Regions from separate parts of the Homo sapiens genome. Here all the other regions are linked to region 1. Evidence: fine-mapped expression QTL. A gene starts in region 1. Each other region holds a variant in brackets. All regions are shown on one strand. Distances are between the middles of the regions.

Region 1 (2,669 bases):
ATATCCCTTCATTTTTAAGGGAAGAATATTTTTCCGATCTTCTAATTCTATTTCTTAGTTCCTCTACACCCCATCCTTTCTGTGACCCCATTCTGTCCTTCCACATCTCTCTCACCTGTCCACCCCCTTCTTCACACTTCAGTTTACCACCCCCTCTCTGTTCTCGAACCTCCTGGTTGCAACCTCAGAAACTGGTTCCCTTTCTATTTTTATCTCACCTCAGAAAACCTACTGCCTTCGAGCACAAAGCCTTACTTTATTGAGGCCACTAAAACTGCAACACCAGATGCAAGCCCACATCCTCTTTCAAGCTCTAAAGTCAAGACCATTACCAAGCAGGGTCTGACAGGTACAGCCAAGAGCAGAGATTATTTCCAGTGGACAAGACTTCCCCCTGGCCTTTGATTTCCAACCTTTCCCAAATGCAATACATGTGAAGCACACAGCACGAAACGCACTCAGCAGGCTTTATCACTCCATAAAAAATAGGCACAACATTTACAAAAAATCAAAAAGAACTGAAATTATCTGTAACAGTTTTGCAAATTCCTTCGAAGTAACTAAAAACACTGCAGGACGGAAAAAACAACCCAGGGCTGCAAATCTTTGCTTTAGGTAACATTTCACTAGATGAGGGTGCCAGGATTCTCCTCCCACATGGACACAGAGAACAGATGCGCTAAGCTGCAGCAACAGGTTTCTTTTCAAAAAGAAAATGTGCTTTAAAACACTTCAGGCAGGTCTGGTAGAGCTTGGAGTCCCTAATAAATACACAAAACACCGGAGATCAGGTTAGGGCAGGCCGTGGGCAATTCAACCACTTCTAGGACCTTTCCAGGGCCCACTGAGGTAATAACTGCTTTCCCTCTTGCCCTGGAAGTAACTGGTGACGCCGCCTCCAGCCCTTGAGGAGCCGGAGAAAGGGTGGCCCAGGCCCAACCTTTGGAGGATACTGCCTTGGCTCTCTCTCACAAATGCAACGGCCCGGGACGGTGTCGCCTTCCAGGAAGGGCCTTTGCGTCTCCCTCCCCCGGGGACACCGCGAATTCCCGCCTCCCGGCGGAAAGCGGGAGAAGCGAGAGTTTTCTCCCCGCCCCTCCCCCAGTAGGGGCAAACCCGCCCCTCAGCAGGCCTGTGCTGTGCGCTCCTCTCCCGGGGACCACCGTCCTCAGATCTCCCCAGGGAATGGGTCGTCCTCTTCCTGCCCCCACCCGCGAGACGCGGCAGAAAAGCCCGCGGCTATCTTCCCGCCAGCAACAGCCTCCCGCCGAGCCGGCCGGGACAGAGGCGGCCCCCACCCCCACTGGGCAGGGGACTGCAGACGGCGCTCCCCGACTCTCAAGACGACCAGGGAGCTTCCCTTTTCCTCAGCGGGGTGAGGGGCATCTGTCGCCCGCCGACTTGGAGGTGGAGGGGCAGGGACATTCCCTCGCCATCACCTCAGGAGCTAGAACGCGCCCTTCTCGCAGCAGGGCGTGGGCCTCCCAATCCCTCCAAGGGGCGGACGGCGTGCGCAACCCCCTGGAGAAGCAACAGGCGCCCCCATCCCCCTCCAAGCCGGGTAACGCCGACCCCCTCGTCCCTCCCGCTCTTCACCTCCGGAAGCCGGGCCAAAGCCTGGGCGAACGACTGCGCCTCACTCCGCCCCCTGCGCCATTTTATCGCCCCCTCCCCGACCTCCCCTACCCCGAGTCAGCCGGGCCAACACCAGGGGGAGGGCAAACCAGCAGTGATTGGCAGGAAACCGTCCCGCCTCTAGGAGGGTTGTGCCCCGCTCAGGCGCCTCAGCCCCGCCCTCCGCACCGCCCACCGTGCCCACTGGCTCCACCTTTTCCCGTCTCATCGACCTGCTCGACTCTCTGCTGCTCCTCACTTTTTCCGGCCGCTGCCGGAGGGGTCCAGGCCGAGTAAGCGGAGCGCCGAGCCCAGCTGATGCAACCTGGCTGGACTCGCGTGACAGTTCCCGGCACGCGGCGGCGACGGTGACCCAGGAAGGGGCTCTGGTGCCGGGCTGAGCGGGGGAAGCAGGGGTAGCGGAGCCATGGGGGACGCTCCCAGCCCTGAAGAGAAACTGCACCTTATCACCCGGAACCTGCAGGTCAGGCCTGGGGGTTGGAAATGCGCCGTTGGGGATTAGGAGCCCGAGGTTCAGTGATTTTGAGCCCCATTACGGGGTTCTAAGTATGTGGGGCCGGGGACTCGGCGCTGGCGCAGCTCTGAGAGAGCCTGTAGATCTCACTGCTGGTCGGTCAGTCAATCAAGCAGCCCTTCCCTGGGTTCCCCAGAAATCACAGTGGGCTCACCTCTTGCGTCCAGTTGTCTTGTGTTGGAGCCAAACTTTGAATCCAGGACTCCCATTCCACCCCCCTATTAAGTGCCAGACGTGGTGCTTAGTCGCTGGGGATACGTCAAGGGCCTGCCAGAGCTTGTCTGAAGGGGATCAGACGTTAAAAATGACCCATTACGGTTCAAGTAAGTACTGGAAGATGCTATACTGGGAGCTTTAAAGGGAAAGAGAGAAGGGAAGGCTTCCCTGAGGAAGTGACCTCCAAACTGCGCCTTGAAGGAAATGGATCCCCCCCCCTCACTCCACAAATGTTCCGTTTGTTACCAAGAACTACAGGAGTAGAAGTGAACCAGAGGAAGAATGGAAGAATAAGGAGGGAGAG
Region 2 (2,683 bases), 56 kb after region 1:
GACACTGTTAAAAAATATTCTGGCCGTGCACGGTGGCTCACGCCTGTAACCCCAGCACTTTGGGAGGCTGAGGCAGGTGGATCACTTGAGGTCAGGAGTTCAAGACCAGCCTGACCAACATGGTGAAACCTTGTCTCTACTAAAAACACAAAAATGAGCCGGGCATGGTGGTGGTGTGTACCTGTAGTCCCAGCTACTCAGGAGGCAGAGGTGAGAGAATTGCTCAAACCCAGGAGGCAGAAGTTGCAGTGAGCTGAGATTGCACCATTGCACTCCAGCCTGGGTGACAGAGAGAGACTCCGTCTCAAAAAAAAAAAAAAAAAAAATTCCAGGCTAGCACTGTGGCTCACACCTGTAATCCTAGCACTTTGGGAGGCTGAGGTGGGCAGATCACCTGAGGTCAAGAGTTCAAGACCGGGCCGGGCGTGGTGGCCCATGCCTGTAATCCCAGCACTTTGGGAGGCCAAGGTGGGTGGATCACGAGGTCAGGAGTTTGAGACCAGCCTGGTCAATATGGTGAAAGCCCGTCTCTACTAAAAATACAAAAATTAGCAAGGCGCGGTGGCGGGCGCCTGTAATCCCAGCTACTTGGGAGGCTGAGGCAGGAAAATCGCTTGAATCCGGGAGGCAGAGATTGCAGTGAGCCGAGATCGCAGCCATTGCATTCCAGCCTGGGCAAGAGAGCAAAAAAATTCCGTCTCAAAAAAAAAAATAAATAAAAGATTTCCTGGGAGGCTGGGCTTGAGCCCAGGAGTTCGAGGTTACAGTGAGCTATAATTGTACCACTGCACTACAGCCTGGGCAACACAGTAAGTCCCTGTCTCTAAAAAAAAAAAAGTAAATATATAAAAATAAAGCTTAAAAAAAAAAAAGATTCCCCTGATAACTCTAAAAAACATAGCAGAGACTGTGAAAGAGAGTCTGTGAACTATATATATGTATCTGTGCAGTATCCCACCAGCCGTGCCTAAGGACACCTCTCTGTCATAGCATCTTTCTCTCTGAGTCCCTAGGGAACTAAAAATTCACAGAGGCTCCCAAGCAACACGACCCCCCTGCAGTTCCTTCCCCAGTTGCTGCCACCCTAACACTGGCCTCTTGGAGACTACTCAAGTACAAGCTGAGATCTTGCTCTCCAGAGAACAAACATTTGTGGAGCTGAATAGTCACATCAACAAATCAATGAGATCTAAACAATAATCCTAAGAAGTAGGCACTTTTATTCCCATTTTATAGATGAGGAAATGGAAACCAGAGGGAGCAAGCATTATAAAGCTGCCCTCTCTGGCCTCCA[T/C]GGTGTAAATGGCAAAGCAGTATTCTCACTCAGAACAACTTGAATCCAAAAGCCACGTTCTGTGCACTGTGCCAGCTACAAACCTGATCTCCCCTCTGAAAAAGGGTCATGGGACCCCATCATCCCTACAAATTGGAGGTTTCTCGACCACCTACCTTCCCCACTCTTCCCCTCTTAGGCCAGATCCACCCACCCACCCACTCTTCTTATCAGTCTCACACAAACAGAAAAGACCAGTAGACCGACATTTGCAGGGTGATTAATTCATGCCAGGCACCATGCCAGGTCGTGGTGAAAGGCAAAACGTAGTCTCTGTCCTCATGGCTCTTACAAAAGTTCTTCGAGGCAGGTACTGGAAGGTACTTTCCTAGTAATTGATCATGGGCCTGCGAGGCTCAGAGAGCTAAGTGACTTCCTGAACTCTGGCTGGCTCTAAAACTGGAGCCTTTCACCACACAGGACAGTCATCTTCAGCTACCCTCTAACCAGGGAAACTAAGGGCTGAGCTCCTGCCAAGATGGGGGTGGAGGAACATCAGCTCATCAAGGTCCCAGGCCCACAGCTGGCAGTCAGGGCCACAGCTGCAAATTCCCAGAGATCCAAGGGCTTACACTTGATAACATCTGGTTGCCCCAGCGACACCCCTCCCCCTCCCCACCCAAGTCAGAGCTCGCAGCCTCTCCGAGTCACCCCAGATCTATACACCTGTGGCTCGCTTGGGGAGGGGCTCAGCAACCTGAGTCTCAGGTGACTGGGAGGGGTACTTCACAAAGAAACTGAGGTCCAGAGAGTGGAAAGACCTTGCCCACAGCCACGCTTAGAGTCCTTGTTCCAGGGATTTCTGCCCCTGGCAGTCCAGAGGTGCAGCCTAGGGCTGAGGCCATGAGGGAAGCATCCCATACCACACCCCCATCCCCAACATGCCTGGGGGAGGAGGCTTCCTGGATCTGAGAAGACACCTTGCTCCTGGTGGCCACGCCCCCAGCACGGAGGGCACACCGGGAAGCACACCTGCGGGCTCCTCAACTCAGAGACAGTTTACCAGGGCAGAGACTCAGGCAGCAGGCAGCGTCCCACTGGGGCCACCTCCGCAGGTGGGCACTCTCAAAACCACACCCACATGGCCGGGTGCGGTGGCTCACACCGGTAATCCCAGCACTTTGGGAGGCCAAGGCGGGTGGATCGCGAGGTCAGGAGTTCAAGACCAGCCTGGCCAACGCCGTGAAAGCCCGTCTCTACTAAAAATACAAAAATTAGCTGGGCATGGTGTCGAGCTCCTGTAATCCCGGCTACTCAGGAGGCTGAGGCAGGAGAATCGCTTGAACCCAGGAGGCGAAGGTTGCAGTGAGCCAAGACCACGCCATTGCACTCCAGCCTGGGTGACAGAGT
Region 3 (2,683 bases), 30 kb before region 1:
CGGGTGTGGTAGTACACACCTGTAGTCCCATCGACTCCAGGGGGCTGAGGTGGGAGGATCACCTGAGCCCATGAGGTGGAGGCTGCAGTGAGCCATGATCATACCACTGCACTCCAACCTGAGTGACAGAGCAAGACACTGTCTCCAAAAAAAAAAGAAAAAAAAAGAAAGAAAAGATACTCATCTATCATCTAGTAAATCAGGAAAGCCAGGATTCAAACCCAGGTGGGGCTAATAATCCAAAAACCTCATTTTAGCTTATAGTTTGAACCTCATCTTCCTCCAAATTTAGAGATGCTAACAAGAATGGGAACATTTGAATTTTCTCTTCTCTTCATAGTCTCTAACAGATGGGCTTTCTTGGACCAACAATCAGTACCATGGGTTTATTTTAAGTTGTGGCAAAAAGGTGGTAAAGACTGTCCTTTGTTTTGTGACTAAGAATGAAATAAAGGAGGGAAAAACCCCCAATATTTCAGGAATGACGTCAACAATTCATCTAAATCTTAATCTATAAATATGAAGGTGACTGGTTTTGGGGAAACATCCAGTTTAATAACTGTTCTTAGTAAGTTTAAAGTGAATCAATTTTTATATCATAATGGAGGAGGACGGATAATGCTGAGTACCTGCTATGCCAATTCTGACAGGTTTTATAGGACATAATACTTTTTACCACCCACATGACCCTAACTCAATCAAGTGTGGCACATGACCAAAGAACAGAGACTCTCTCAGCTGGCTAATGACATAATGACCTAGAAGGCTGCCTGGTACCAGCAGGTCATTAAGTAAACCAATCAGATACTCTTCTTTGAAATGTCAATGTGAGCTTTAGTAATGAGAACAAGAGAGAACAGTACACATGCAGGGCTCTAGGAAAAACAGTTACTTGAGATAGCTAAATAGCAGCAAAAGTACTGGTCACAGAAGCAGATTAGATTAGGGAAAATCCCAATAGGGAACAGAGGCACTCATTTCTTTTTTCTTTATTTTTTTTTGAGAC[G/A]GAGTTTCGCTCTTTTGCCCAGGCTGGAGTGCAGTGACTCGATATTGGCTCACTGCAAACTCTGCCTTCCGGTTTCAAGCAATTCTCCTGCCTCAGCCTCCCGAGTAGCTGGGATTACAGGTGCCCGCCACCATACTCGGCTAATTTTTGTATTTTTAGTAGAGATGGGGTTTCACCATCTTGGCGAGGCTGGTCTCGAACTCCTGACTTCATGATCCACCCACCTTGGCCTCCCAAAGTGCTGGGATTACAGGTGTGAGCTGCAGCACCTAGTTAGAGGCACACATTTCTGACGGAGCGTGTAGTTCGGCTCTACGGTTAATTCTTTTCACTACGAGACCTGGTGAAAAGTCTCATCTAATCATCTTTTCCTGTAAATCCTTAAACTCAGTTACTTAAAGGCTATCATAATATCTCTATTCCATGCAATGTAAAGTACTTAATACCAGGGAGGGAATGAAGAGAGAAGGAAAGAAAAAATGTGCTACAGGGGACATGGGCTACTGCTTTTATAAATAGATTAATAAAATATAAATGAAAAGAAAAAATAAGTAGAAGGCAAGAATGCAAATGTGTCACCTCTAGGTCAACAAAACTGCGATGATCTAGTAGAAATCTTGACTGATTTTCCTTGCAGGCAAGGGAAAAAGTAGAAGAAACAGGAGTTATTATGTAATTCACTTATGAAGTGATACAGGGGATACTGAATGATATATGAATGTCCTCAACAGTACTGGGAAATTCAGAATCAGAATTTATATAACCATTGCTGTTTATGATCTTCAATAAAAATCAAAGCAGATATTTCCACTTGTAGCTAAGATGAATGGGGGACTTAACCTCTCACTGTAAGCTACTAGAAACTAGGCAAAATTATGAAACAAGTGCTTTCAGACTACTGAAAATTGTGATCCCCGAGGAAAGAGAAACAACTGAGGTGAGTCTTGAAACTTCTTATAAGTCTATAATTTTTCAAAATAAAAAGTTTTTTAAATGAAGGCAAAATAAACAGGTTCTAAATAAAAGCAGAGAGACTTCATCAGTAGATGTGCACTACAACAAACATTACAAGTTGTTCATTAGGAAAAAGGAAAATAATATCACATCGAAACTTGGATCTATACAAAATAATCAAAAGCACTGGAAATGTAAGTATGTGAGTGCATATAAAAGGCTATTTTTCCTATTTAGATGATGTCTTTAAAAGATAATTTACTGTTACGGCCAGGCACGGTGGCTCATGCCTGTAATCCCAGCACTTTGGGAGGCCAAGGTGGGCGGATCACCTGAGGTTGGGAGTTCGAGACCAGCCTGACCAACATGGAGAAACCCCGTCTCTACTAAAAATACAAAATTAGCCAGGTGTGGTAGCACATGCCTGTAATCCTAGCTACTAGGGAGGCTGAGGCAGGAGAATCGCTTGAACCTGGAGGCGGAGGTTGCGGTGAGCTGAGATCGCACCACTGCACTACAGCCTGGGCGACAAGAGTGAAACTCCGTCTCAAAAAAAAAAAAAAGAAAGATAATTTACTGTTTAAAGTAAAAATAACATGCCTGTAATCCCAACACTTTGAAGGATGAGGTGGGAGGCTTGCTTGAGGCCAGGAGGTCAAGACTACAGTGAGCTATAATCATGTTACTGCACTCTAGCCTAGGCAACAGAGTGAGATCCCATCT
Region 4 (2,683 bases), 730 kb before region 1:
GTTCTGCAGGCTGTACAGGCTTCTGCCTCTGGGAAGGTCTCAGGAAACTTACAATCATGGCAGAAGGGGAAGCAGGCACATCTTCACACGGCTGTCAGGAGAGGGAGAGCAAAGTGCAACACACTTTCAAACAACCAGATCTCATGAGAACTCACTCACTATCACGAGAACAGCAAGGGGGAAATCCACCCCATGATCCAATCACCTCTCACCAGGTCTCTTCCCCAACCTGGGGATTACAATTCAACATGAGATTTGAATGGGGACACAGAGCCAAACCACGTTAACCATCTTGTGCCTATTTTACAATAGTGCTAGCTCCAGCTGAGGTTAGCTAGCCAGTGTGTGGGTTAGAGCTGCTCACCATCAAGATTGTTTCCAGGGAGACCCAGTTCTGCCTGTTGTGTGAATTACATCCTGGCAACCTTCAAAAGATAAGAAAACCTAGCCAAATGCGATAAGCTCTCTTTTATTAATGTTTACATTGAAGGTTGAAAATGAATCCCTCTTCCACAGTGGGAAACAGAATGGAGAACATGTGGTTAGGTAGTGTCTCACAGTCTGAGTCGAGACTAGGAAAGGGAATAATCCCAAGGTTGAGAAGTGGAAAAGACATAAATGGCAAGTGGTGGGGTACACATGACTTAAACATTTATTGGCTCCAGCCAACTAGATGTGGTCACTCAGATGTTACCATTTGATGCCCACACATGGTTACATGAGGAGATAGATTCCATGATAGTTGTAACTTTATCTTTTCATGCAGTTGTCATTTATTCGGTAATTGTTCTCCTCTTTCCTCATGTTTACCATGGCCTGGTCTGATCTAAGGACATCTCCTACACATTTCTGTATCATGAAATGTGTTGGCCCTGCAGGGGACCATAGATCTTGTGGCTTTGTCTCCTGTTCTCTACCCTTCTTCGCTCCTTGGGTCCTTGGAGGTCTCTTGAGTGGGTTTGCACAATACCAGAAGCCAGAGAAATGTAGGAATGTAGCAAGAGGAAGGGGGTGAAGCAAAAATGAAATGAGAGGGTCTGAGATGTTTATTCTAGAGCTCACTTGTATGGCATAATTTGTGAGTAGGGAATCCTTAATGAAAGG[C/T]CCAGCATCGATCACCTTGAATATTTATCATTTCTTTGTGGTGAGAACATTTAAAATTCTCTCCTACAGCTACTTGGAAATATACAATACATGCATCAAAACATCACTTCCTACCCCATAAATATGTACAATGATTATTTGTCAATTAAAGATAAAATGAAACTTTTTAAAAAGTAATAAATAAATAAATAAATGCCCAAGATCAAGATTCAAGCTAGGCGGTTAAGAAATGAAGCTATGCTAAGCAGTTTGGACTTTATCCTATGGCATCGGGGAGCCAGTAAAGATGTTTCTGCAGGAAAAAATTTTTTGAAAAAAAAAAAGGTCAGATGGTTAGTGATTGTTAAGATTAGAGGACAAAGTAGAAGATGGATTAGAGGGAGAGTTTACAAGGAGGGGACATTAGTCGGGAGGCTCTTGCAAGAGTTCAGGCAAAAGAATGTTGAATGTCTAAGCTAAGACAGTGGCACAGGAGAGGAGATGGGACTACAGAATCAGCAGGTGTTTGTAGAGAAGAGGGGAAGGGGAGAAGGAGGACCTGTGGCCAGTTTGGATCACTGAAATTCCAGACTGGCACGGGCCACAGAGCCTTTCCTCTGCCTTCTTGCTTCCCCTCCCTGTGTGGTTCCCAGGGACTTACCCATGGCCTCAGATCTTTGTGTTCTTCCACCATTGCATATGGAGGCAGGAGCATGTGCAGGTAACTTGTGCTAGGCCTCATTCGTGGGACCCACTGCATCCCCTTAGTCCCATCCCAGTATCTTTCTCCCCTGCTTCTCCACTCCCTTTTCTTCCCTGAAAAATAATGGGATTTGTGTGGTTCTGGTCCATAGGAACCAGCGTGGGAGTTTGCGGTGACCCTGGGATCCCGGCTCATGGCATCCGTTTGGGGGACAGCTTTGATCCAGGCACTGTGATGCGCTTCAGCTGTGAAGCTGGCCACGTGCTCCGGGGATCGTCAGAGCGCACCTGTCAAGCCAATGGCTCGTGGAGCGGCTCGCAGCCTGAGTGTGGAGGTAATGTATGTGACCATTCTGCTTCTCCCCTTTGCCCAGCCCCAGAGCTCGCCCCTGCTCCTGCTCTTATTCCCAGGCACCTGCGCTCACAGAAAAAAACCGTGGCCCCATTTGAACCCTCAGCCTGGCTGATAGGACTGCAACAGATAATTCATGTGCATTTTCATTAGTAATCAAAAGACAAACATATTCCCACTCTCACCTCAAAAGGGAAGAAATCAAAAAAGACTGAATTTGACCCACTATTTCATTCATTTCCCATATAGTTTCATTCAGCATCTATGTGCCAAGTGCTGTGGAATGTGCTGGGGACACAATGGTGACCAAGACGGACACTGCCATGGTCTGGATATTTGTGACCTCCCAAAAATCATATGTTGAAACCTGGTCACCCAGTGATAGTATTAGGAAGTGGGGTCTTGGGAAGTTGTTAGGTCATGGAATGGGATTAATGCTCTTATAGAGAAAAGAAAATACCTTAGAATGCTCCCTTTCCCTTGTGCCATGTGAAGACACAGCAAGAAGGCACCATGTCCAAGCCTGAACAGACGGAGACACACATC

Which allele goes with the higher level. Alleles are on the strand shown, and positions count from the first base shown. SD is a standard deviation of normalised expression in the study named. Not every link is listed here.
In carriers of allele T in region 4, the expression in sun-exposed skin of the gene that starts at base 1,633 in region 1 tends to be higher than with C alone (moderate effect, 0.67 SD a copy in GTEx).

What was found.
Region 2: its variant is fine-mapped to the expression of S100PBP in whole blood (TOPMed, PIP above 0.99).
Region 3: its variant is fine-mapped to the expression of S100PBP in whole blood (INTERVAL, PIP 0.98).
Region 4: its variant is fine-mapped to the expression of S100PBP in sun-exposed skin (GTEx, PIP above 0.99).

The regions. Positions count from the first base shown.
Region 1 is chr1:32,816,617-32,819,285 of GRCh38, reverse strand. It overlaps S100PBP (S100P binding protein), which reads right to left and starts at 1,633. Exons shown (of 7, transcript NM_022753.4): 1 at 1,597-1,633. It overlaps YARS1 (tyrosyl-tRNA synthetase 1), which reads left to right and starts at 1,928. Exons shown (of 13, transcript NM_003680.4): 1 at 1,928-2,098. The coding sequence starts at 2,042. RefSeq lists enhancers at 67-216, 677-786, 1,220-1,389, 1,757-2,066, 1,815-2,314 and 2 more.
Region 2 is chr1:32,760,622-32,763,304 of GRCh38, reverse strand. The region is part of intron 1 of NHSL3 (NHS like 3); the gene reads right to left. Among named protein-coding and RNA genes, the nearest start is that of NHSL3, 20 kb to the right of the region's middle. RefSeq lists a silencer at 1,281-1,501 and an enhancer at 2,136-2,683. The variant T/C (reference allele first, on the strand shown) is at 1,295.
Region 3 is chr1:32,846,625-32,849,307 of GRCh38, reverse strand. The region is part of intron 5 of S100PBP (S100P binding protein); the gene reads right to left. Among named protein-coding and RNA genes, the nearest start is that of FNDC5, 23 kb to the left of the region's middle. The variant G/A (reference allele first, on the strand shown) is at 1,007.
Region 4 is chr1:33,545,474-33,548,156 of GRCh38, reverse strand. It overlaps CSMD2 (CUB and Sushi multiple domains 2), which reads left to right. Exons shown (of 71, transcript NM_001281956.2): 57 at 1,938-2,120. Among named protein-coding and RNA genes, the nearest start is that of ZSCAN20, 74 kb to the right of the region's middle. The variant C/T (reference allele first, on the strand shown) is at 1,105.